Linked DNA regions of Homo sapiens: region 2 is linked to region 1. The links come from fine-mapping of genetic effects on gene expression. A gene starts in region 1. The other region holds a variant in brackets. All regions are shown on one strand. Distances are between the middles of the regions. Region 1 holds the start of BCKDHB (branched chain keto acid dehydrogenase E1 subunit beta). Region 2 overlaps BCKDHB (branched chain keto acid dehydrogenase E1 subunit beta).

Evidence for each region.
Region 2: its variant is fine-mapped to the expression of BCKDHB in esophagus mucosa (GTEx, PIP 0.95).

What each region holds. Positions count from the first base shown.
Region 1 is chr6:80,099,534-80,112,404 of GRCh38, forward strand. It overlaps BCKDHB (branched chain keto acid dehydrogenase E1 subunit beta), which reads left to right and starts at 7,138. Exons shown (of 10, transcript NM_183050.4): 1 at 7,138-7,356. The coding sequence starts at 7,161. RefSeq lists enhancers at 6,934-7,434, 7,401-7,480 and silencers at 7,021-7,220, 7,251-7,350.
Region 2 is chr6:80,236,463-80,249,333 of GRCh38, forward strand. All of the region lies in intron 8 of BCKDHB (branched chain keto acid dehydrogenase E1 subunit beta), which reads left to right. Among named protein-coding and RNA genes, the nearest start is that of BCKDHB, 140 kb to the left of the region's middle. The variant C/T (reference allele first, on the strand shown) is at 5,849.

The DNA.
Region 1 (12,871 bases):
TGTCTGCCCCTTTGCTCTTCTCTCTTTTTCCACACTGGTCACCACCTGGTGTTCCCAATAAAGTTTGTGATGGAGGTAAGGTAAGATATGGGTCTCAAATTTCTTTTGTCCCAATATTCACAATTATGTAAGCCATAGTTTTAATTAAGCTTTGAGAAACCTAGCAGTACTCATAAATTACCTGGGGAAGTTTTAAAAAATCACTACTGCCGGGCTGGTATGTATTTTTACAGATGAGTAGCTCTCTCTAAAACACTGTTATACATACAGGCAGATATTAACATTTGTAGCCGTTTTCTGAGCCATTGATTGTATCTAAATCCTTCCCCTGGGCTGAGCCCAAACTTCCAATAATGTCACTTTTTGATGCCCTTTCTTCAGTGACTGGCTTACACGGCTTCTGTCTACATAGCATGGTTCAAAGTGCTTGGAAGACTGATCACAGTGCATCTCAAGCCCCTGCAGGAGATAAGAAGCCAGAGAGAAGTTGCCAAGATGCCGAGGAAGGGGAAGAAGGAATAACTCACATGCTGGATGGGACAGCTGGCTTAGACCAGGGGTTGGCTTAAAATAATGTTGATTGAAACACTGTCTCTGGCACATGCAAGGCTCTCAGTACACACTAGTGAATAGTAGAATCAGAATTCTTAAAATTAGAAGTACGCTAAACCACCTGTAAATGAAGCATAAATCCTCCCAAGAGGCTCCCTCAATAGTGTTCATCCATTTCGTGCTTGACTATTTCAGTAATAGAGAATTCATTACTTCCCATGACAGTCTACTTAATAAGAAGCTCTTTATATTACACTAGAATTTGCTTCTTCCTGTTTCTTATTCTTCCCTCCGGAGCTAAATAGTAAATTTAACCCCTCTACAAGGGAGCCCATCAAACTTTGAGGGAGAGTTAATACATCACTTTTAAAATCTTATCTAGACCAAATATCTCTAGATTTTTAACCCTTCTCCAAATGACTTTAGGTCATATTTGAAGAAATCCACAAAACACTTTATAAAAACTCTTTAACCATGTAAACATCCTCCTAATAGTTTATCAAAAGCATCCATAGTTTATCAAAAGCATTCATCCAGTTAGCTTCTGTTCCTGCAACCAAGTCTCTGACTGTTATGCCCCTGTCCCCTGAAAGATATGTTGAGCTTGACACTCCCCTACCCCCAAACCCAGTACCTAACCCCTGGCCCTCAGAATTTAAGCTTATTTGGAAATAGGGTCATGGCAGATGTAATTGATTAAGTTAAGATGAGGTTAGATTGGAGCAGTGTGGGCTTCTAATCCAATATGACTGGTGTCCTTATAAAACGATAGCTGTGCAAAGATATGGAGACGGCATGTGGTAACAAACGCACATACTGGATTTATGCAACTGCAAGCCAAGGGATGACAAAGAATTCCAGAGAACCAACAAAAGGGAAAAGAAGAATTTTCCTACAGGTTTCAGAGGGCGCATGGTCCCACTGACACCTTGATCTTGGACTTGATCAGAATCGCAGACAATACGTTCCTGCAACCAGTTTGTGCTGCTTTGTGACAGCATCCCTAGGAAACAAATACATTGGCTTTGAGTATATTCTGGACTTTCTTTTGATTCCAACAGGATCATTCCACTTAGTAATTCAGTGAAGTAAGGAAAATCAGGGAGCTTTTCCATTATCCCGAGTCCTTAGTTGAAACCGATTTCATATGAACAGAGTCTGTGAACTAATACACTGGATGTTAAACATGCTGTAGGGGGAATGAATCTCTTCATCAACATATTTAGATGGGCAAATATAACTTTATTTTTCTGTAATTTAATTTTTAAATAATAGTGCTACTGATATATAATTTACATATCATGAAATTCATCCTTTTAATGTACAATTCACTGGTTTTTAGCATAGAGCAAAGTTGTGCAACCATCAACATTACTTAATTTTAGAACATTTTCATCACTCAAAAAATAAACTTTAGGCCGGGCGCGGTGGCTCACGCCTGTAATCCCAGCACTTTGGGAGGCGGAGGCGGGCGGATCACGAGGTCAGGAGATCGAGACCATCCCGGCTAAAACGGTGAAACCCCGTCTCTACTAAAAATACAAAAAATTAGCCGGGCGTAGTGGCGGGCGCCTGTAGTCCCAGCTACTTGGGAGGCTGAGGCAGGAGAATGGCGTGAACCCGGGAGGCGGAGCTTGCAGTGAGCCGAGATCCCGCCACTGCACTCCAGCCTGGGCGACAGAGCGAGACTCCGTCTCAAAATAAATAAATAAATAAATAAATAAATAAATAAATAAACAAACTTTATATCCATTAGCAGTCATTCCCTACCTCCTGTCTCTGTTGATTTGTCTATTCTGGACTTTTTATAAATGTAATTGTATAATATATAGTATTTTAAACTGGCTTCTTTCACTTAGCGTAATGTTTTCAAAGTTCATCCATGTAACACTACTTAATTACTCTTTATTGACAGATAATATTCTATTTACAGATATATCAGTTTTGTTTAACCATTCATCATTTCATGGGTATTTGGATTGTTTCCACTTTTTTGCTATTATGAATAGTGCAGCTACGAATATTTGTGTACTAGCTTTGGTGAATACACCTTTTCATTTTTCTTTGTTATATACTTAGGAGTGGAATTGCTGGGTCATAAGATAATTATGTTTAAAAAAACAAAAAAGGAAGAGAAATAGAAGAACAAAATTAAAAAGATAACTGTGTTTAACATTTTGCGGAACTGTTTTCCATAGCAGCTGCATCATTTTACAGTCCCACCAGTGATGCACAATGGTTCCAGTTGCTATACAGCCTCACCAACACATGTTATAGATTTCTTTTTATTTTAATCATCCTAGTGGATATGAAGTGGTATCTCATTGTGGTTTTGATTTGTATTTCTTTAATGACTATTGATGTTGAGAATCTTTTCTTATGTTCATTGGCCACTTGCATATCTTCTTTGGAGAAATGTCATTCAAATCCTTTGTCCATTTCTTTAAATAGGCTATGTTTTTTAGAGCAGTGTTAGGTTCACAAAAAATTTGAGAGGAGGGTACAGAGAATGTCCATATGCTTTCCCCAAATACAGAGCTTCCTTAATCATCAACATTTGCACTGCAGTGGCACATTTGTCACCATCAAGGAACCTACATTAACACACAGTTGTCAACCAAAGCCCATAGTTTACATTAGGGTTCACTCTTGGTGGTGTACGTTCTATGCATTTGGACGAATGTATAATGACATATTTATATGTCCACCATTATAATATCATACAGAATATTTTTCCTACCCTAAGAATCCTCTGTGATTTTCCATTTATCCCTTCCTGCTCCCAACCCTTGCAACCCCTCATCTCTTTTATTCTCTCCATAATTTTGCCTTTTCCAGAATGTCATATAGATGGATTCATATAGTATGTAGCCTTTTTAGATTGGCTTCTTTCACTTAGTCATATAAATTTAAACTTCTTCCATGTCTTCTGATGGTTAAATATTTTTTTTTCTTTTTTTTCTTTTTTTTGAGAGTCTCACTCTGTTGCCCAGGCTGGAGCACAGTTGCGTGATCTGGGCCCACTGCAACCTCTGCCTTCTGGGTTCAAGCGATTCTCCTGCCTCAGCCTCCTGAATAGCTGGGACTACAGGTGCACACCACCACGCCCAGCTAATTTTTGTATTTTTAGTAGAGACGGGGTTTCACCATGTTGACCAGGCTAGTCTCAAATTCCTGACCTCAGGTGATCCGCCCGCCTCGGCCTCCCAAAGTGCTGGGATTACAGGCATGAGCCACCACACCCAGCTTAATATTTCTTTTTAGTGCTGAATAATATTCCATTAAGTTTATTTGGTTGCTTCCAAGTTTGGGCAATTATGAATAAAGCTGCTGTAAATATTCTGCACAGGTTTTAATGTGGACATACATTTTTAGCTTATTTGGGCAAATACCAAGCAGCACTACTGCTGGATTTCATGGTGAGAATATGTTAGTTTTATAAAAAACTAAACTGTGTTGCAAAGTGGCTATACCATTTTGCATTGCCACAATCAATGAATGAGAATTCTTTGCCCATTTTCTAATTGGGTAATTTTTCTTTTCTATTGTTGCGTTTAAGACTTTCAATCAGTATATTCTAGACACAAGTCCTTATCATTCTGATTGCTGGGTCTCCTCAAGTTCCCTGGATCTTGTTGCCATAGCTGCATCTCTCTTGGCCACATGGGAGAAGCATCCTGCTGTTTCAAATGCCATGACATGCTGGGTAGCCTGAGGATTTAGTGATACTTTTCTAGGTTCATCTACAAAGGAGGATACCTACAGGTCTTTCTAATCTATAGCTGTACCTCCATGGAAGGTGAGACAAACCATCTCTTATACTGGTATGTGATTTACAATCTTTTCTTTTAGCCCTAAGCTTTGTTTCCTAACTCATTCAGGTTTTTGAGGTTTAATACTCAGAAACCAGTCTGTAGAATTCAAACTTTTCTCTCAAATTATTGTCTCTGCTATCAAGTTTAAAATCTATTTTAAAATTCAAAAGCAATAATTTGATTTCTTTTTTTTCTGCCTCCATGATACCTCTGTTTGAGTTTGAAAGGAGGCAGATGCCAGGATGTAATACTGCAAAACTATCATCTTGCTATATAAAATGGTCGTCTAAAAGCAAGCTGAGACTAAACAGGTACAAGTTGCACAGGTAGTGAAGCTCAGTGAGAGCAAGTGATGCAAGAGTCATTCTGAAGGGTGAAGAGCAACTTTGCTTTGTATTCCAACTCCATAGTCATGGGTTCTGCAATTGGAAATAGCTTAAACAAAGAGGGGAATACATTTTAAGGATACGGTGATGTCTCATAGAACCCCAGGACCAGAAAGCAGTTAGGCCTTGGGAATAAATGGAATCAGGAACTCAAATATAATCACACTCTTCACCTTTTCTGGTTCACGAAATTACTGAAAACTCCCATTTTTTGCAGTTCCTAGTGGCATTTAAAGATAATCTGATCTTTCTTTCTAAACTACACTTCCAAAATTCCCAGAAAAGGACAGTTTCCCAAATTGAGTAAATGTGGCCAGGGCAAGGGGAATGGAGGAAAGTCCCACTGTAATAACATAGACATTTTCATGGTTACCAGGCAAATGGTGTGGTAGAGATGGGGAAAATTTAAAAAATCAGTTTGCAAAACAGGTGAATCTGGCAGGTGCTCTGTTTGTTTTTCCTGGCTGCATGTAGTTGAAAGTTCAAACCTCTTAGACCTTCAAAATCTCCCTTTAATCTGTTTTTCCTACTTTTTCTGTTAACCCTGTATCATTCCCTACACCCTGAATCTAGAAGCACCAAGCTATTTTCTCTTCCTGGAATGCACTGTGCTCTTCATGCCTATCAGCCTTTATACAGGTTTCTTCTTAGTTTGGAATGCCATTTTCTCCCTAGTCTGCCTGGTAACTTCTAGTCATCTTTTAGGTCTAGCTCAGAGTTATATCTGGAAACACTTGACTTTCAAATAAGAGTTTATTGCTCTTTTTGTGTTTCACTTTGTTTGCACTATTCTAGGACTCCTATCACATTGGATTGTAGTTGCCTAATCTGTCTCTTTTCTCTACCACCTTGGACATTTTAGAAGTAAAACTATGCCTTGATCTTATTTGTCTCAATGGTGGCTTGTCATTGGGTTGTACGTAGCAGAGGTTCAATAAAATTCTCATCAGTTATTATTTTTCTCTTTTTCTCCCCGACCTAAATAATCTCAGTACCCCCAGCTCCCTAAACTATCAACAAATAGAAAAAAAGCTCTATTCATTTTTATCCTTGTTCTTTACTCTCCTTAGTTTAAACCCAAATTTGACTATGTAAATGTAATTTCATTTTGTTACCCCTTCCTTCATTAAAACAAAAATACCCTTCATGCACATGCAAAACACTCTACCCCACACTATTAAAACAGCAGAAATGAACACTAACAAAAGCCAAGATAAAAAATTTCCCCAATGTTGAATTTTTGGACTTAGTGTGGGGGTAGGAAAAATGGAGACATAATTCTGGTTCTCCCTTTGGCAGTTTTCAATTGCTGTTTCTTAATCTCAGTCAGAAAACACATTTCTCTGCCTCTCCTTTTGCCCCATTTCTACCCTCTCCTCCCTTGCCCCTGTGCAAAACCAAAGATGGGTTAAGAGGCAAGGCATAATGGAAGAGGAATGTTCTTTTCCTCCACTCCCACTTTCTTCTTCAAATTCTGTTTTGGGACCATCCTTCCCCACCCTCCCATTTTCATCTGATGGACACACTGTCTCTGTTGTCTCTTGTCATATTTGATTTTATGATATTTCATGTTTTATGTGCTTTTTTTTTTTTTTAGTAAATTCATGGACAGAGAATGTATCCTGGTAAACACTTAGATTAAAACAAATTTACATAGTTGATTACTATAAATGAAAATTAGTGACTCAAATTCTCCAGGTTTCTAAGCTACTTAGACTAAGCCAATCAGGTAATTTTTGCTACTTCTGGGCAAAATGTATCTGAATTCCTATTCAGTGGATTTGCAGGATGAAATCTAAGTTTACCTCTTTCATCTCTCATTTAAATGTGGAAAAACGAAATCAATAAAAATCTATATATGCTTATTAAGCATTTTAAGGAGGGTGTGAATAAGGAGTGAAAGCTTTGAGCAGTGACTACAGCAGTTTTTCGAAAGTCAAAACAATAACCAATGCCAATCAGTAGCTCTCTTCACCTCTCACACAATAATAGAGACAGGACAGGATAAAAAAGGGTTACATTTAAAAAAAAGTATGGATGTTAAACCATTGGAAATGGCACTGTAAATGACACCGGAAAAGATCGCCTCCAGGCACTGTGTGGAACTTTGCAAACTCGGGTCCTCACCCGAGGACCGCACGGCCGACCTCGGGGAGGCTCCACCCCAGAAACTATTTCATTGGCGCCACCTCTAGCCCACACTTCCCCTCTTCCGCATGCGCACAAGGAGCAGAAGCCGACCAGCTCGTCACGTCGCCTTCCCCGCCCCTAAATTTCCAGTTCCGATTGGTCTGTTTCATGGGACCGCCCCTCTGGCCCGACCAATGTGGAAGCCTCCTCGGGTGCTCCGCCCTCCCCGCAGGCGGCGTGCGGCTGCATAGCCTGAGAATCCCGGTGGTGAGCGGGGATGGCGGTTGTAGCGGCGGCTGCCGGCTGGCTACTCAGGCTCAGGGCGGCAGGGGCTGAGGGGCACTGGCGTCGGCTTCCTGGCGCGGGGCTGGCGCGGGGCTTTTTGCACCCCGCCGCGACTGTCGAGGATGCGGCCCAGAGGCGGCAGGTGGCTCATTTTACTTTCCAGCCAGATCCGGAGCCCCGGGAGTACGGTGAGCCCTGGGACTGCCCACTCGGTCCCGCTGCAGCCCGGACTCCCAGGCTCGCAGGCGCCCGCGAGGGGCAGGGGCCGGCAGGCTGCAATCCTTGCATCCCAGCTTATTAACTTCCTGACTCTCTGGAACCTCCTTGCCTCAGGGTCTAACTGTGGTTCACTTCTTGCTCTATTTTTGTGACTGTTCAGCCCTCGAGACGCAGTCCCCCCTCCCCCGCAACTTTGAGATGGGTGAGAGGGCATACTGCCACCTGGAAGAGCCTGAGGGTGGAGGGGTGGTGCCCAGGGAACGCCTCCCTTTTCTCTGTCCTCCGTCCTTGCTTTCTCAACCCAGGCCTTAGGTGTTGTTCCAGCCTGGCCAGGACTGGGCCACTAGCTTAGGTAGAGGCATTTAAAAGATATATATATATGTTTATATATATATATTTTAAATGTATATTATATATATTATATATAAAATATATATATGTATATAAAATCAATTCAGTTACTCAGTCCCTTGGTTTCTTCTTACATACAGAAATTGTGTGTATGTGTGTGTGTGTGTGTGTGTGTATATATCCACACACATATATATATGTGTGGATATATATACGCGCATATATATGCATATATATGTGCGCATATATATATATATGCATATATATATATGCACACATATATATGCATATATATATGCATATATGTATATATGTCCCTTGGTTTCTTCTTACCTACAGAATTCTGAGTAATTGAACTGATTTTCCCAAGGTCACAGAACAGGTCCTTCCTAGAGATGTGAAAGAATTCAGACTTTCTACTTGAGCTTAGTACTGAGCTTGTCCTGGGCTATGCTGCCACTTAGCCAAGGAGGTGAAGGGGATGAGAGGAGGAAGCCATAGGAAGGGCATGTAGCAAACTCCTCATAGTATGACTGTTGCATGATTTTTACCATTTCTGCAAGTTTCATGTAATGTCTCTCATCAGAATATCAGATCCAGTGTCTCTCTTCAGAATATCAGGAAACTGTAGGGAAACATGTATTGCTTCCTTGTCTAATAACTTCTCATGTGCATGCTAGAGCTGACATTTTTGGAAGTGTGTCTTGTGGATAAGAATGAACAGTTATTGAGTGCTTACCAGGGTCAGGTGCTGTGTGTATGTTTCATCATCTCATTTAAGGGTTAGGACAACCTTAAAAGGTTAGTAAAGTTTTTATTCCCATTTTGCAGTTAGGTTAATGGAGTCTTGAGACAGTTTGACCAAGATTACACAGGTAAGTTAGTGGTAGCTCCAAAGCTCCAGCTTTGGAATCTAATTGATCAGATTCCAGAGCTTCCATTCTAAACAATGTACTAAGATGCGTGTAGATATAATTTACTTGGAGGGCGTCCCAGTATTGTGAAACAGTAGGTACCATAAAGGTTAATAGTAGGTGTTTTTTTTTTTTTTTCCACCACCAAGATGAGCCCTCAATTCTGTCTTCAAAGCAAATTCTGTCTTCAAAGCAAAGAAATTTTGGTCTAATACTTGAGAAATAGTCCAACTTTCCATAGTTGTAAACTTACTAAAATCTAAGTAAAATGATATCATGTTATCATGATATATATCATGATATATATAAACTTGTTCTTATTTTAAAAATAATACAAACATATTAACAGATAATTTGGATAATGGATAAAAAGTAAAAAAAAAAAAAAAAAATCTGCCGGGCGCAGTGGCTCACGTCTGTAATCCCAGCACTTTGGGAGGCGGAGGCAGGCGGATCACCAGGTCAAGAGATCGAGACCATCCTGGCCAACATGGTGAAACCCGGTCTCTACCAAAAATACAAAAATTAGCTGGGCGTGGCAGCGCATGCCTGTAGTCCCAGCTACTCGGGAGGCTGAGGGAGGAGAATCGCTTGAACCTGGGAGGCAGAGGTTGCAGTGAGCTGATATCGTGCCACTGCACTCCAGCCTGGTGACAGAGCAAGACTCTGTCTCAAAAAAACCCCAAAAAACCAAAAAACAAAAATCACCACCCACTGCAGTAAATATTGCTAACATTTTGGGTGTATCCTTACAGGTATTTCCTTTTAGTTTCGTATTTTCCATACTTTTAGTTTTAATACAAATACAACTTATTTAGTCGGAAGAATTATCCTACAATTCACTGGAGTTTTTATAACCTTCTTGAGAATTTAGAAGAACTGTTCCATGGAGTAGAGATGCTACAAGTCTTTTACAAGTTAAATTCTTGACCCCGGAATCAGATTGTCCTAAGTTTGATCTTGCCTTGGCTGTCTATAACTTTGGAGTTACTACTTATCCTCTGTAAGCCTCAGTTTCTTTATATGTAAGGGGTTAATAATAATACCTACTTCAGAAGGTTGTTGTGAGGGCTACATAAAACAATGTCTATAATATACTTAACACTGTTTGACAACTGAGAATCAAGCATTCAGTCAATAAGTGGAACCTTTAAATAATTACCATTATGTTTTTGTTGTTAAAATTTTGCAATTTTGTAAATAATGCAGATACAAGCATTTCATGCATATGGGTTTTATGTATCTGAGATTATTTCTTTAGGATAGAGTCCTGAATACTTTAATGGATTTTAAGTGCATAGTTCAAATTTATACCCATTTATACCCCATAATATGTATAATAGTGTGAGTATTGGATATTAATGCTAAAATTAGGTGTGTTCATGTACACTCTTGGATATTTTGTGCTAACTGTACTTTGTTTTAATTTTTGTTTCATTTCTGTTGAGGAATATTTTCCCATGTTTTTGTTAAATTGATTTATTTTTACTTAAGAATTGAATATTAGATGTATTTACATATTTTTAAAAGTATACTCAGTATTTTTCCTATCAATACTATCTACGATTATTGCATAGCTGCTCTTTTCCAGGTGTTGTGTTAGACATCAGTTTATAATCCTCACAGTAACCTTGTGAACTAGACAATATTATGCTCATTTTAAAGATGAGAAAATTGAGGCTCAGAAATGTTAGTACTTACCCAAGTCTGGTAAGTAGCAGAGCCAGAGTTTGAATCCTGATGTGTCTTACTCCAAAGCCTCCCACACTACTTATATACTAAGATTTTGTCTGTTAAAAAATATTGAAGAACATACTAACTTTCTGCTTTTCACATGTCCTGCAAATACTTTTCACTCTTTTATTTTGGTTGTTTTGACATATAAAAGGTACTGCTTAAAAGGAGGTAGTCAGATTAGACTCTGAGTTGGTGACACTTATGCTGCTTTATGCTGGCATGTTTGCTCCCTTTATTACACTGTGTTGTTCTCTGAGAACAGTTCATCCTGGCTTCTCCATGCCCCTGATTCTTGGGCATTGTATGGATGTGAGTTTGTTTATTCAGTCATTCTCTGCATTTTTATTTTCTCCTGGATGCCATACTCTCTGCTAGCTGCTAAGGATGTGATCATGGACCTGTCGGAGGGTAATCTGAACCTTCGTTTTGGACACTTGGTATCCCCTATCTGCCAGGAAATTCAAACTTTTTGTAGTTTTTTCATCCAGGATTTGGCTATACACAAGGAGGTCATCCATATACTGGAGTATACTCCCATTTCTTAATTAATTGCAGACCCCTCAGATTCCTCTCTAAGGCCCAGGCAAAGCAATGGGGGCTATCCTGAAAACCCTGAGGGAGAACTGTCCAAGTGTATTATTGTTTTTCTCTGGCATTAGGATTTTCCCATTCAAAGGCAAAAAGGTATTGGGATTCTGGGGCCAGAGGAATGGAAAATGAAGCATCTTCTAGGTCTAGGACTGAGAACCATTTAGCATCCCTTGGCACCTGAGCCAGGAGGGTATATGGATCTGCCACCAATGGGTGGACCTACCAGTGGGTCTTAAGAGCCCAGGGGTAAGTAATACCTTAGCTGTGGATGCTTGGCCTTTCCTTGCTTCCAGCTTAATTGGGTATTGTTTTTGATTGGGAAAATAAATAGCTAGGGGTCTTTAAGCTGTATTTTGGCTGGCACTGCTGTTTTAGCCTTCCTTGGTTTTCCAGTATACCATGCCAGTGTGTTAACCTGTTTATTAATGTGGTCTGGGACAGTGTCTGTATTTTTGACTATTAGCAATTTCACCAGATGATGCTTAAATTGTAGTAGTGCCCCTATTTTAACCATAATATCTCTTTTTAACAGGGGGCCTGGGCAGCTTGATACTACTAGAAATTACTGTTGGAAGATTTGTTTCTCAATTTGACAAATCAAAGGAGGAATAAAGGATCTTACTTGTGGCTTTCCTTCCATTCCCATAATGGTCGTGGACTGGGAGGAAAGTTTTCCTACATAAGTAGTAAGGAAAGAAACTGAATTTGTATTGAAAAGAAACTGAATTTGGGTGCCCATGACGTCCAGAGTTACCTGGGGGCTCCTCAGTAGTAATTACGATGTTCCTGAACAGGGGCAGTGAGGAAGACCCTGGGTCGCTTCAGTCTTCATCTAATTTCTCTTTTGCACTGCTAGAGTTTTGCCTTATTGAACCCCTTGGTGGGAGCAGGGCCAGTCAATCTTCCAGTGCCAGGGGTTGTAACTGATGCTCTCGCATTTTTGGCAGGGGACTGGCAGGGGCTTAATATAGTCCTTTATCCAATTCTCGTTTTTCTTGCATTTGAAGCAAGAGTCTTTGTTGTGCAGATTATCAGAGGCAAGCCAAATCAACCAAATTCCAAGTGGCTGGTGTGCTCCATCAATTCCTGCAGGCCTGAAATAGGTAGCCTAGGAATTCCAAATAAATAGAACACATGATGACTTGTTGGAAATTCGCAGGAAACAAAATAACTATTCTCAGAACCAAATAAAAGCCTTCCACTAGAAACTAAAAAATGTCTATGGTTTTATATATATGCATACACAAGTAAAACCCAAAGGAGAACAAATAGCAAACAAATGAAAATTAGAAGCAAAAACAAATAGACAGGAAACCATCTCTAAATTTTTCCTACTTAGTCTACCCGGGGGGCTACAGTGTTACCCAGAGCCCCCCAGAAAACCACATAATGAATATTTTATTCCTGATACACAACTCAATATCCTTAATTCCACCAGTATCACCATACATACTGTGCAATGAAGAAATTCACTCTAGGCACATGACCAGTAAGTACTCCAGTGCCAGCTTGTTTAGTAAAGTTATACTTAAGTCATGTGAACTTGAAAATTGCTTAGACTTATTTACTTAATTTATGAGCGCTCCTTTAATTATAAGCCAATCTGATAGACACAACATATAACAGTAAGTGTACATACAAATAAACACATCTAGACATGTATACACAAACACAAATGAAGATCCAATAGCTTTTTACCTTGGAACTCTAGCCATGAGATAGCAATATAAGTCCACTGGTTTTACTGTTTGACCCAATGGGTAATCCAGTGAAGGCTGTGAACCAAAATTTCAGGTCAAGCAGTTTCCATGGTAGTTTGATTTTTAAAGGCCAAACCTCCCCAGACTCCAAACACTGGGGCCAAACAGCACCAAAGGAGAACACCACATGC
Region 2 (12,871 bases), 140 kb after region 1:
AGTGAAAATTTTATCTAAGAAAATAAATGTAAGTTTAGGTTTCTGAGGCTGTCTATTGTTTACATGGGTAAAAAGCTAAAGCCCTCACTGTACAGCTATTTCAAATGTTTAACATATATTTACTCATTTATTCCTTACATTAGCAGAGGTAGTTACATTGAAAATACTGAGTCATTGAGAGGTTGAGTAACTGGCCCCAAGACACATACTAACAAGGGTTGAGCTGGGATTTGAACCCAGGCAGTCCAATTCCAGAGTCTGTGCTCTTAACCAATATTCTATGCAGCCTCATTTATCTGTTATGTGTATGTATGTAAGTCAATATGTACAGAGAGATTGAAAGAGACTTTATCTTATATTTTATAGTGAATGTTATTATCACTTCTTGGAAAAATACAGAATTTTGCAGAGGAATGTATAGTTTTCTAAGGTCAACTTTCAACGTCAAGTAAAATAATTTAAAAAAATTTTCATGTAGATATACTTTGAGAGACATTTAGATGCAGTGGAATGGGTTTGGAAAAGGACCAACAAAAGAATAAGGAAATATAAATCATGCTATTGTAGAAGACATTGTAAACATTTCATTCTGAGAGAATTTTATAAGGGAACTGCAAGTGTTTTTCAGATATTTGAAGGTAGAAATTGAGAGAGTTTGGCTTTGTTCTTTATAGTTTTGGTGGACAAAATTAAAGTCTTTGGTAGATGCTTTAGAGCAATAGGATTTTACACCATTTAAGGAGGAAATTTTTGCATGGAAGGTGGCCTTAGGAAATAATGAGCATTTTTCTATCAGGATGCTTAGATAGAGGCTGAAAACAGGGATGTCACTGAGGATAATCAAGCATTCGGCTGATTGAGTAACTGAACTAGGTGATCACATTTAAGTTACCTTCTAAACCTGCAACTTAAAGATTCTAATAACTTAGAAGGGATTCTGTTTTATTAATTTACTATGTAGGTGATTTCTAGTGAAACTTATGATCATTAATACCAGTGGTTGCGAAAAAATAATGCCTGTTACAGAATTATTCATAATAAGCTCATGGAAATTCACTCATCATACTTAGTGTTTATTATGTGTCAGATACCTTGTTAAGCACTTTATCATTTATTACCTTTTTACTCTTCACAGTAAACTTCTGGAGTGAGAACTATTATTGTCTTCTAGATGAGAGGTTCAGAAGTGCCCATGTTCACATTAACCAGTAAGTTGGCATGGCCAGAGCTTGAACCCGAGGCTTTCTGACTCCAAAACCTATATGCCTAACTACTGCACAACCTTTCAACTTTCTAGTTCAGATCAGAAATTGAAAATCAAGGTAATTAACATGACAAGGTTCTCAGAATATGATACTTTTGTTATTTACATAAGTAGAAAAGGTTCAGGCCATCCCTATCAGCTGGAGCAGACTGCTATAAAAAAAAGGAAGAATGAAATAGAAGAATTAGGGAAAGGAAAGAGAGCAAGGATGTTGTGTAGGAACTATTTCATGTCTAGTTGAAATGTGTTATAAAACTTAAATAGGTTTTTTAAAGTTCTGTTTTGGGTGGCATAAATTTATAAAGCAAAATTCCTTCCTCCCTCCTTCGCTTCCTTCCTTCCAAAGAGTATTGAGGAGATTTTAATCTTTTTTAAATTTTTATTTTATTTTTTGAGAGTCTCGCTCTGTCACCCAGGCTGGAGTTCAGTGGCGTGATCTTGGCTTATAGCAACCTCCGCCTCCTGGGTTCAAGCAGTTCTCCTGCCTCAGCCTCCTGAGTAGCTGGGGCTACAGGCGCATGCCACCACACCCGGCTAGTTTTTGTATTTTTTAGTATAGACTGGGTTTTGCCATGTTGGCTAGGCTTGTCTTGAACTCCTGACCTCAGGTCATCTGCTGGCCTTGGCCTCCCAAAGTGCTGGGATTACAGGCGTGAGCCATCCTGCCCAGCCTTATCTTTAAATTATTCAGTAAACAACAGTCAAAAGAAAAATCTTAGCCACATTAAGTTAATAGAGTTCAGTTGAGCAAATAACAACTCGTGAATCTGGCAGCCTCGGAAACCAGAGTAGGCTCAGAGACTCTCCAGCGCAGCCAAGTGGTGGAAGATTTTGTTTTTTCACTCTTTTTATTTTATTTTTATTTATTTATATATTTTTTATTTTTTATTATACTTTAAGTTCTACGGTACATGTGCACAACATGCAAGTTTGTTACATATGTATACATGTACCATGCTGGTGTGCTGCACCCATTAACTCGTCATTTACATTAGGTGTATCTCCTAATGCTATCCCTCCCCCCTCCTCCCATCCCATGACAGGCCCCAGTGTGTGATGTTCCCCACCCTGTGTCCAAGTATTCTCATTGTTCAATTCCCACCTATGAGTGAGAACATGTGGTGTTTAGTTTGCTGTCCTTGTGATAGTTTGCTCAGAATGATGGTTTCCAGCTTCATCCATGGCCCTGCAAAGGACATGAACTCATCCTTTTTTATGGCTGCATAGTATTCCATAGTGTATATGTGCCACATTTTCTTAGTCCATTCTATCATTGATAGACATTTGGGTTGGTTCCAAGTCTTTGCTATTGTGAATAATGCTGCAATGAACATACGTGTGCATGTGTCTTTATAGTAGAATGATTTATAATCCTTTGGATATATACCCAGTAATGAGATCGCTAGGTCAGATGGTATTTCTAGTTCTAGATCTTTGAGAAATCACCACACTGTCTTCTACAATGGTTGAACTAGTTTACACTCCCACCAACAGTGTAAAAGTGTTCCTATTTCTCCACATCCTCTCAAGCACCTGTTGTTTCCTGACTTTTTAATGATCACCATTCTAACTGGTGTGAGATGATATCTCAATGTGGTTTTGATTTGCATTTCTCTGATGGCCAGTGATGATGAGCATTTTTTTCATGTGTCTGTTGACTGCATAAATGTCTTCTTTTGAGAAGTGTCTGTTCATATCCTTCGCCCACTTTTTGATGGGGTTGTTTGATTTTTTCTTGTAAATTTTTTTAAGTTCTTTGTAGATTCTGGATATTAGCCCTTTGTCAGATGAGTAGATTGCAAAATTTTTCTCCCATTCTGTAGGTTGCCTATTCACTCTGATGGTAGTCTCCTTTGCTGTGCAGAAGCTCTTTAGTTTAATTAGATCCCATTTGACAATTTTGGCTTTTGTTACCATTGCTTTTGGTGTTTTAGTCATGAAGTCCTTGCCCATGCCTACGTCCTGAATAGTATTGCCTAGGTTTTCTTCTAGGGTTTTTATGGTTTTAGGTCTAACATTTAAGTCTTTAATTCCTCTTGAATTAATTTTTGTGTAAGATGTAAGGAAGGGATCCAGTTTCAGCTTTCTACGTATGGCTAGCCAGTTTTCCCAGCACCATTTATTAAATAGGGAATCCTTTCCCCATTTCTTGTTTATGTCAGGTTTGTCAAAGATCAGATGGTTGTAGATGTGTGGTGTTACTTCTGAGGGCTCTGTTCTGTTCCATTGGTCTATATCTCTGTTTTGGTACCAGTACCATGCTGTTTTGGTTGCTGTAGCCTTGTAGTATAGTTTGAAGTCAGGTAGCATGATGCCTCCAGCTTTGTTCTTTTTGCTTAGAATTGTCTTGGGAATGTGGGCTCTTTTTTGGTTCCATATGAAGTTTAAAGTAGATTTTTTCCAATGCTGTGAAGAAAGTCATTGTCAGCTTGATGGGGATGGCATTGAATCATGAAGAAAGTCATTGTCAGCTTGATGGGGATGGCATTGAATCTATAAATTACCTTGGGCAGTATGGCCATTTTCACGATATTGATTCCTCCTATCCATGAGCATGGAATGTTCTTCCATTTGTTTGTGTATTCTTTTATTTTGTTGAGCAGTGGTTTGTAGTTCTCCTTGAAGAGTTCTCCTCTTCAAGGAGAATACAACTCACATGCCTTGTAAGTTGGATTCCTAGGTATTTTATTCTCTTTGAAGCAATTGTGAATGGGAGTTCACTCATGATTTGGCTCTCTGTTTGTCTGTTATTGGTGTATAGGAATGCTTGTGATTTTTGCACATTGATTTTTGTATCGGACTTTACTGAAGTTGCTTATCAGCTTAAGGAGATTTTGGGCTGAGACGATGGGGTTTTCTAAATATACAATCATGTCATCTGCAAACAGGGACAATTTGACTTCCTCATTTCCTAATTGAATACCCTTTATTTCTTTCTCTTGCCTGATTGCCCTGGCCAGAACTTCCAACCCTGTGTTGAATAGGAGTGGTGAGAGAGGGCATCCCTGTCTTGTGCCAGTTTTTAAAGGGAATGCTTCCAGTTTTTGCCCATTTAGTATGATATTGGCCTGTCTTGCTAGGTTGGGGAAGTTCTCCTGGATAATATCCTGAAGAGTGTTTTCCAGCTTGGTTCCTTTCTCCCCGTCACTTTCAGGTACACCAATCAGACATAGATTTGGTCTTTTCACATAGTCCCATATTTCTTAGAGGCTTTTTTCGTTTCTTTTTACTCTTTTTTCTCTAAACTTCTCTTCTCACTTCACTTCATTCATCTGATCTTCAATCACTGATACCCTTCTTCCACTTGATCGAATCGGCCACTGAAGCTTGTGCATGTGTCACGTTGTTCTCATGTCATGGTTTTCATCTCCATCAGGTCATTTAAGGTCTTCTCTATGCTGTTTATTTTAGTTAGCCATTTGTCTAATCTTTTTTCAAGGTTTTAGCTTCCTTGCGATGGATTCGAACATCCTCCTTTAGCTCAGAGAAGTTTGTTATTACTGATCTTCTGAAGCCTACTTCTGTCAACTCGTCAAAGTCATTCTCCATCCAGCTTTGTTCCGTTGCTGGTGAGGAGCTGCGATCCTTTGAAGGAGAAGAGGCACTCTGATTTTTAGAATTTTCAGCTCTTCTGCTCTGGTTTCTCCCCATCTTTGTGGTTTTATCTACCTTTCGTCTTTGATGATGGTGACCTACAGATGGAGTTTTGGTATGAGTTGTCCTTTTTGTTGATGTTGCTGCTGTTCCTTTGTGCTTGTTGGTTTTCCTTCTAACAGTCAGGACCCTCAGCTGCAGGTCTGTTGGAGTTTGCTGGAGGTCCACTCCAGACCCTGTTTGCCTGGGCATCACCAGCGGAGGGTGCAGAGCAGCAAATATTGCAGAACAGCAATTTTTTATACATATTTCTTTATGTATATAGGCAATATTTCTGGTAAATTCCTGGGAATGAAACTTCTCATTCCTACATTATCAGCATTTTGAACTTTAGTAGGTATTGTCAAATGATTTTACAGTAGTTGTACCATTTACACGCTCACCAGCAGTATGTGAGATGTCCTGTTGTGATCAATCTGATTGTGTGAAATGGTATCCTACTGGGTTTAAATTTGCCTTTCTGTAATTGCTAATGAGGTTGAACATCTTGTCTGTAAATTTGCTTCCACTTTTCTATTGGGGGAAAATTTTTCTTACTGATTTGTGGATTTCTTTTTATTATTTGGCTAAGAAACCTTTATGAGTTATATATACATTGCAAGTATCCTTTCTCAGTCTGTGGCTTGTGTTTTCACTCTTTTAATGTTGTCTTTTGATGCACGGAAGTTTTAAATTTTTCTGTGGTCAAATTTATTCATCTTTTCATTTATGGATTCTACTTTCTCCGTCTCACTTAAATCCTTCCTTATCACAAGATCATGAAGATATTTTAAAATATTTTGAATAGTTTTAAAGTTTTACCTTTCAAACTTAGGTCTCTAGTCACCTTTAATCATACTTGATATATTTAGGGTGATTTAAGGTAAGAGCTCTGTTTTATTTTTGACCCTACACTCTGCATCTTTTAACAGTATCCACTGTTCATGTACA[C/T]GTGGATTTGTTCATGGGCTGTCCATTTTATGTTTCTTTGTGTCTTTTTAGAGCCTTACAATACCTCTCTATCTTAACAATATAGCTTTATAATAAATTTGAATATCTGATAGGGCAAATCTCCCGAACTTGCTCTTCTTCAGTTATTTTTGGTGGGGTGGGAGCAGGGAGGAGAGGTGATATTTTTAGTCCTTTTATTTTCTTTAGGAATTTGAAGATTAATTGTTAAGTGACACACACACATACACATACACATGTACACACACACACACACAGTTCACATTTTTATGGGAATTGCATTTAATTTATAGATAATTTGAGGAATGTGACATCATGGCAATATTGATTATTCCTTTCCATGAATATTGGATTGTCTTTATTTATTCAAGCCTTCCTGTATTCTTAATTAATCTTTGCATCATGGGGAGGAGTGTGGTGCTGGCTGTTAACCAGGGTGGGGACTATTGACTAACATCTTTGCTACATCTGGGGTATAATAGTCCACTGGTACTGGGGCATCAGGCTAAATAGATGAGAACAGATAAAGTATAAAAATTGGGTAGGTTTCCAGAGACCCAAATCTGTTTGGGTTAAAGGCAAATCTGTAGTTTGAGTGTTCAGATTGCCATCAGTAGGCTGGTTTGGCAGGCAGAGAAGGTTGACATCTCTCGATCGGGCAAAGGATTCTATCTCTCAATTGGGGTTAATCGGGAAACGACTCAGGCATAGAGCATCAGGACTCTATAGTCATATCTCAGCCACAGACTAACTGGACAGTATGGCCAGAATCTAGTCACTGAAAGACTGGACAATAGGATAAAACAAGGTACAGAGAGACAAAGTAAAAGGGAGTACCACCTGGTACTGAGACTAGAAGTACAGGGATATCAAGAGAATGCTACTGAGCCAGCTCATTCCCAGGCAAAGGCTTATTATGTTTCATTCTTCAGCACCAGCACAAAGGCTGGAATATCAGTGGAGATAAACCCAAAGGTAGGAGAGTCCCAATCAGGGGGAAGAGGGAAGGAGTGGGGAGCCCTATGGTTCCTGACATGCTTTGCTCCCTGATGAGGTAATAGAAAGCTGAAGCAGTATATAGCTGATATAAGAAGATTCAATGTAGATAGAAAGAATATCTTAAACTAATGTCTGGATAAAACTATATTAAATTAAGTATTGTTTGACAACAGCTAAGAATTAATGAGAAAAGTCCTTAAATATCTCTCTCTCTATATTTTTTGAGTGAGGGTATCACTCTGTCATCCAGACTGGAGTGCAGTGGTGTGATCTCAGTGCACTGAAGCCTTGACCTCCAGAGCTCAAGCAGTCTTCCCACCTCAGCCTCCCGAGTAACTGGGACCACAGGTGTGCACTTCTGTGCCCAGCTAATTTTTGTTTACCTTTTTGTAGGGATAGTGTCTCATGGTGTTGCCCAAACTGGTCTTGAACTCCTGAGCTCAAGTGATTTTCCTTCTTCAGCCTCCCAAAGTGCTGGGATTATAGATATGAGCCACTGTGCCTGGCCAAGTATTTACATTTAAAGAAATCTCACTTTAAAAGTGTTTCTGTGTAAGTGTAGAGCTTAGAATTGTGAAGGCTATATTTATGTTTGTCTATTTCAATAAATAATTTATCTAAAGATGAATCAACAGCTCACTTACCTTTTTATTTCAGTAAACTGAAAATAAGAAGCCACAAGCTCTCAAAGTACCTAAGACAAAATACACTATTTCTTGAGGGCTGATCTATAATCCTGAGTCTATAAAATCATAGAAGAAGCCACTGGGTTTTTAATGTTAGGAAACTGATTGGGAAACATGTTAAGTATTGATGTGTAGGAAAGACTGAGGTGTTTGATGACAGATGAAAGTGAAGAAAGGCTGGTGAAGCAGGAGATGGAAGGGCACAGTCTGGGGACTGTGTGTGTGTGTGTGCATGTATGTGTGTACACACGTGCGCATGTAGGTGGATGTCTTAAACCACAGCACAACCTGACTAGAAGTGTATGTTGTTGTAGAAGTAATAACTAGGCAATGAATGGTTTCAAAAACATGTTAGAAATTTAAGTTTCCTTTTGAGGTAATATTCCATAGAGATTCTAAAAGAGGTTGCTCATAAATCAAATTGTGAGGAGCTCCAACTTAATTATAAGAAAAAAATAACACAGTTAAAATTACCCTTAAAGTAATTAGCATAATTTTTTTGTTTTGTTGTTATTTAAATAAAGAACAGAACTGTTGTTGCCCTGAGGGAAAAATGGATAACAGGCAGTTTGCTCATGTGGCTTATACTTTATGTATGTGTGCATCTATTGTAATAGTAACAGATAATGTCTTCTAATAGCTCATGGAAGAAATTAGTTTCTTTTCGAGCAAAATGGTAGCCTTGTGGAAGCTGACAAAAGTCATATTATAATGATTTTTGGCTCAATAAAGTAATGATAGCTTGGAAAAAGTAAAGGAGTACGGCAGCAGAAGAAAGATGACTGTAACAAAACAAATTATTTGAACAAAAGATAACTGTTTCTTTAATTGGATTCTCATGGAATATTGGTTTAAAATATGCTGACCAAAGGCAGTATCTGGAAGACAGGAACTTAGGATTTCTGAATCATAGTTCTCCTAGCTTGGATTGAATTCAATTCAACAAACTTTTGTTGAGCATCTACTCTGGAGCCAGGTGGCCTGAGTGTGGTTCTTGGTTCTACTATTCTACCTCTCTATCAGTTTCCTCATCTATAAAACAGAGATATAATAGTAGTCTTTATCTTCTGTGATTTTTTTTTTAGGATAAACAGAATTTTAATGTATGTAAAGTACTTAGAACACTGTTTGCCACTTTTGCACACACAGAAAGTCAACTGAATTAGAGACCGGAAACTGAAAGGTGCTTATACTGTCTTAGTGGGAGAGACAGATAAGAAACCCAACAATTTCAGTAGTATTTTCTGATAATACCAATAACATGTTTATCAAAAGGTTGCTATGGGAACCCAGGAATTGAAGAAAAAACGACCTTAGGGGGATAGTTTTCTGGAATAAAATTCAAAAAAGGCTTTCAATAGGAAAAAAAAAATCCCCCAAAAGCTCAGGAAACAAAAAGTAGACAAAGTGAGAGGCTGGAACACATTCATTTGTAGCTTTTTGAGCTTCCTTCCTTGCTGGACCTAACACTACATCTGGTCACCTTTTAGATACTTGGTAAAAACACGATAGAGATCATTTTAAGTTCTGATACTATTTTCATGTGTACTCTCAGTCACAGCATCTAGTTGAGACTAATGGAATTAGAATAACCAGAATAGCAAACTACTATTCCAAAGTGTAGTGCTCTGTGCTGTTAGACAAAATATTGACTTCTGGGTTGAGTTAGAACACCACGAAGGAGCAGCACTTTTATGTCATGGCCCTTCTTTTCTACTCTCTGTCAATTTGAATGAAGCAGAAGAGAGGCAAGTATTATCCAGTTAGAAATAAAAGAGAGGGCCGGGCACGGTGGTTCATGTCTGCAATCCCAGCACGTTGGGAGGCCGAGGCAGGTGGATCACTTAAGCTTAGGAATGCGAGACCAGCCTGGGCAATATGATGAAACACCATCACTACAAAAAAATACAAAAATTAGCCAAACATGGTGGTATGTGCCTGTGGTCCAGCTACTCGGGAGGCTGCTGTGGGAGGATCACTTGAGCCTGGAAGGGGGAGGTTGCAGTAATCTGAGATGACTCCCCTGCACTCCAATGTGTGTGACAGAGTGAGACCCTATCTCACTAAATAAATAAATGGATGAATGAGAGAAAGACATTTTAAACCAATATGTTAAGAATCACACTTTAGGATAACCTTGATATTGTAATAATTTATGATTCTCTAACCTGTGAAAATTGTAAATTGTTAAGCAATAAAGAGAAAATACACTTGTGGATATGCAGAAATGTGAGTTTCTCAGTGCATGGGAAGCATTGAGAGAAGGAAGGTGTCCATCCAGTCTGTGGTCCCCTGGTCGTCCCTCGCCTCCCCTATGTATCTTGTCTTGCTTAGGTTTTGACCTTTGTCTTCATGTTATCCTGCATTGCTATACAACAATTGGGGCATCTTGTGGTTGAAGTTTTAAGGTAAAATGAAACCATGGTTACTCCTTGCTGTTTCATTGGCTGGCCCTGCAGTTCTTCATGCTTACTAGCCCCCTTCCTGCCATTGCTACTACAAAAGCCCTCCAGACCTCCTTTGGTGGGAGGAGACATGAGAATGTTTTTTTATCTCACTGACATCCTACTGAAATCAGGGAAAGACAGGGCAGTGTAAAGCTTTCAGCTCATTCTAACCTGGCAGACTTCTTCACCATTGCAGCTGTATGCTGTCTACCCAACACTGGCTTACAGAATCCAAAATGGCTCTCCCAGAGGGCTTCAGAAGCTGGGCAGAAGCTCCTAATGTTTGTGGAGACACCCCCTTAGTCTTTCTGAATGTTTTACCATCTTACCACCCCATCTTCTGTCCAGCCCCATGCTGACACACACTTGTACACACTTGCACACACACATACACACATACATAGACAAACTCACACATTCCCCCACCCCTCTCCCCCAACATACAGACACACCTTCAAGGGCCCAGACAATGTTTAATCTCTAGTTAGACACTTTGGTCCTTATTTCATCCTAGAAGGCAATCAAACTTATATTTCTTTTCTTTGAGCCAGGGAAACTGCTTTAATATTCTCCTTTTGCCATATCTATGAGTAACTTTCATATAAGCTCTCAATTCTACAGTTCTGCATGGTCCAAGCAAAGTCCTTTTGGACCATCAAAACAAAACCGTTTCTCTCTCAAGCTCTTAGAGAATGTGGGTTGCAAAACAATTGCTTCTGCAAAGCTAATTTTTAAATTGCTATTTGGAAAATTATAACTGAACAATAATGCCTTTGTCCTTGGCTGTATCTGTCTGTCTCTCAAAGCCAAAGCTTTCAGCTTTGCTGGGTAAAGCAACAAGATTAGTAAGAATAAAAATAAATCACATAATATTTCAAAAATATTATCCTGTTAAATCTTATTACCTAGACCTGAGTTATTTCACACAAGAAGAATACTCAATCAGCTACATCCTTAAGGTTGTCATAACAAATCAGGCTGATTTCCACACATATTTATAACCGGAATTATTAGTTTTTCAAAGATATGTTACAGGTGAGCTAACATTAGATGTAGAAGGGAAACTTTTGATCAAAGTTTAAATTCTGATTCCTCTTGTTCACTTGGATGTCTTTACGATTCATTTAAACTTTCCAAAATCTTATTTCTAAAACAGGCATAACAATTCACTATGACAATGCAGCATATTGTCTGTACTTTTGGATGCTTTCTGGAAGGTTGTCAGCAGCCAACTAAATTCATTATTAGAGACTTACAGTGAAGGGAAATGGTTCTTGAGGTGACCCCTGTTCAGTCCAGAAATAGCAGCTCTTTATTTAGGTAATTACCATTGTGAATTGCTGCTAATGGCCACGTTAGTGGAAGTCTATGTTGTGATGAGGACCACTTTAACATTGGGGTGGTTTTGATTCTTTCTGCTACTTAACATTCAGAATGATCCATAGCTGAAGCTTAGTTACTATTAAAAATCTACAGTGTTTTGCCAGTGGGAATTCCAATTATTATTGCCTGGTAATTAAAAGACCTGCTTGCCTCAGAGTTTTTGAAAGAACAAAATAATACATGTGATTGTTTCAAACTTCAACTCTATTTGAATGTTAGGTGGTTGTTATTAATTTTTACTAACTCTCTTACTGTACTCTTTTTCTCCCTTATCTAGTTTTCCTGCTCTCTTTTCAATGCTTTGGGAAATTCATCTTCATAAAGCTTGATTTTTAATTGAAGCAAATTTTTCTCAGAGTCAGCACCACAGTGTCCAAGGTCATCTGTTGTCTTAGCATCTTTTCCACTGTTTAATCTGTGTCTTAAGGCTTCTTTGGTTCTTTTTGGATCTGTGATTGTTTCTGTTTTCTGAACATGGGATATAGTTCCAGATACACTGCTTTTTTATACTGAACTACATTCTGCGTTGCTTGGTTTTGTTTTACTTTGCTTTTCTCTAGTATTTTTTGAGCTTAGGGTTTATTTTTATCATTTATAAATTGGTTTGAAAAAAGATTAATTCACTCAGTGTTCAACATTTGAATCAAGTGACAATTATGTGCAAAATACAGTGGTATTGCTGGGATATGGTATGAGCCCAGAATGCCCAGGCTTCTGGCTTGACTACAGGATCAGTGGTGCTGTCATTCACCAGGGCTGGGACTGCTGGAGGTAGAGCTGAAGTGGAAGGGAGAGTTGGGGCAGAATGAGTGGATGATGGACAATTGCTGTTAGCTTTGCATGTGGGAAAGTTTAAGGTATCCAGTGGCTGGTGTGGTACCTTAGAGAGGCTCTCACTCCAAGTGGCAGATCTAGGTATCATTAGTATAAATACAGTAATTGAAGCCAAGGGAGTGAATGAAAGAGAATGGAGATGAATTCTCTGTTGAATGATCACCAGACTTGCCATGTTTTTCTATAGATAGATACCCTGGTTGGAAGTTTGTGTGTGTGTGTGTATGTGTGTGTGTGTGTGTGTGTGTGTGTATGTGTATTGTGTGTGTGCATCCCAGAATAGCCATAGTGGTGTGGAGGTGTGTATGTCTTCAGTGTATTTGGTAGGCTTCCTGGAAACTACAGTTTTAAAAATGATTGACAACCATAGGCTGGAACTTCTTAACCATGTTAACATGAATTTATAGTTTGTTTATTGTGGGGCTGTTCTGTGCATTGTAGGATGTTTAGCAGCATTCCTGATTTCTACCTACTAGATGCTAATAAGTTCCTCCCACCCAATCCTCATCCCCAGTTGTGGTGACCAAAAATGTCTTTAAGCATTGCTAAATGTTCCTTGGGCTAGATAATGCCACCTGAATAAGTTCTTCTCTGAATTTATTTACAGCATTTTGGGAGGAGCCACATTAACTTTTATGTTCCAGAATGCTTGAAAA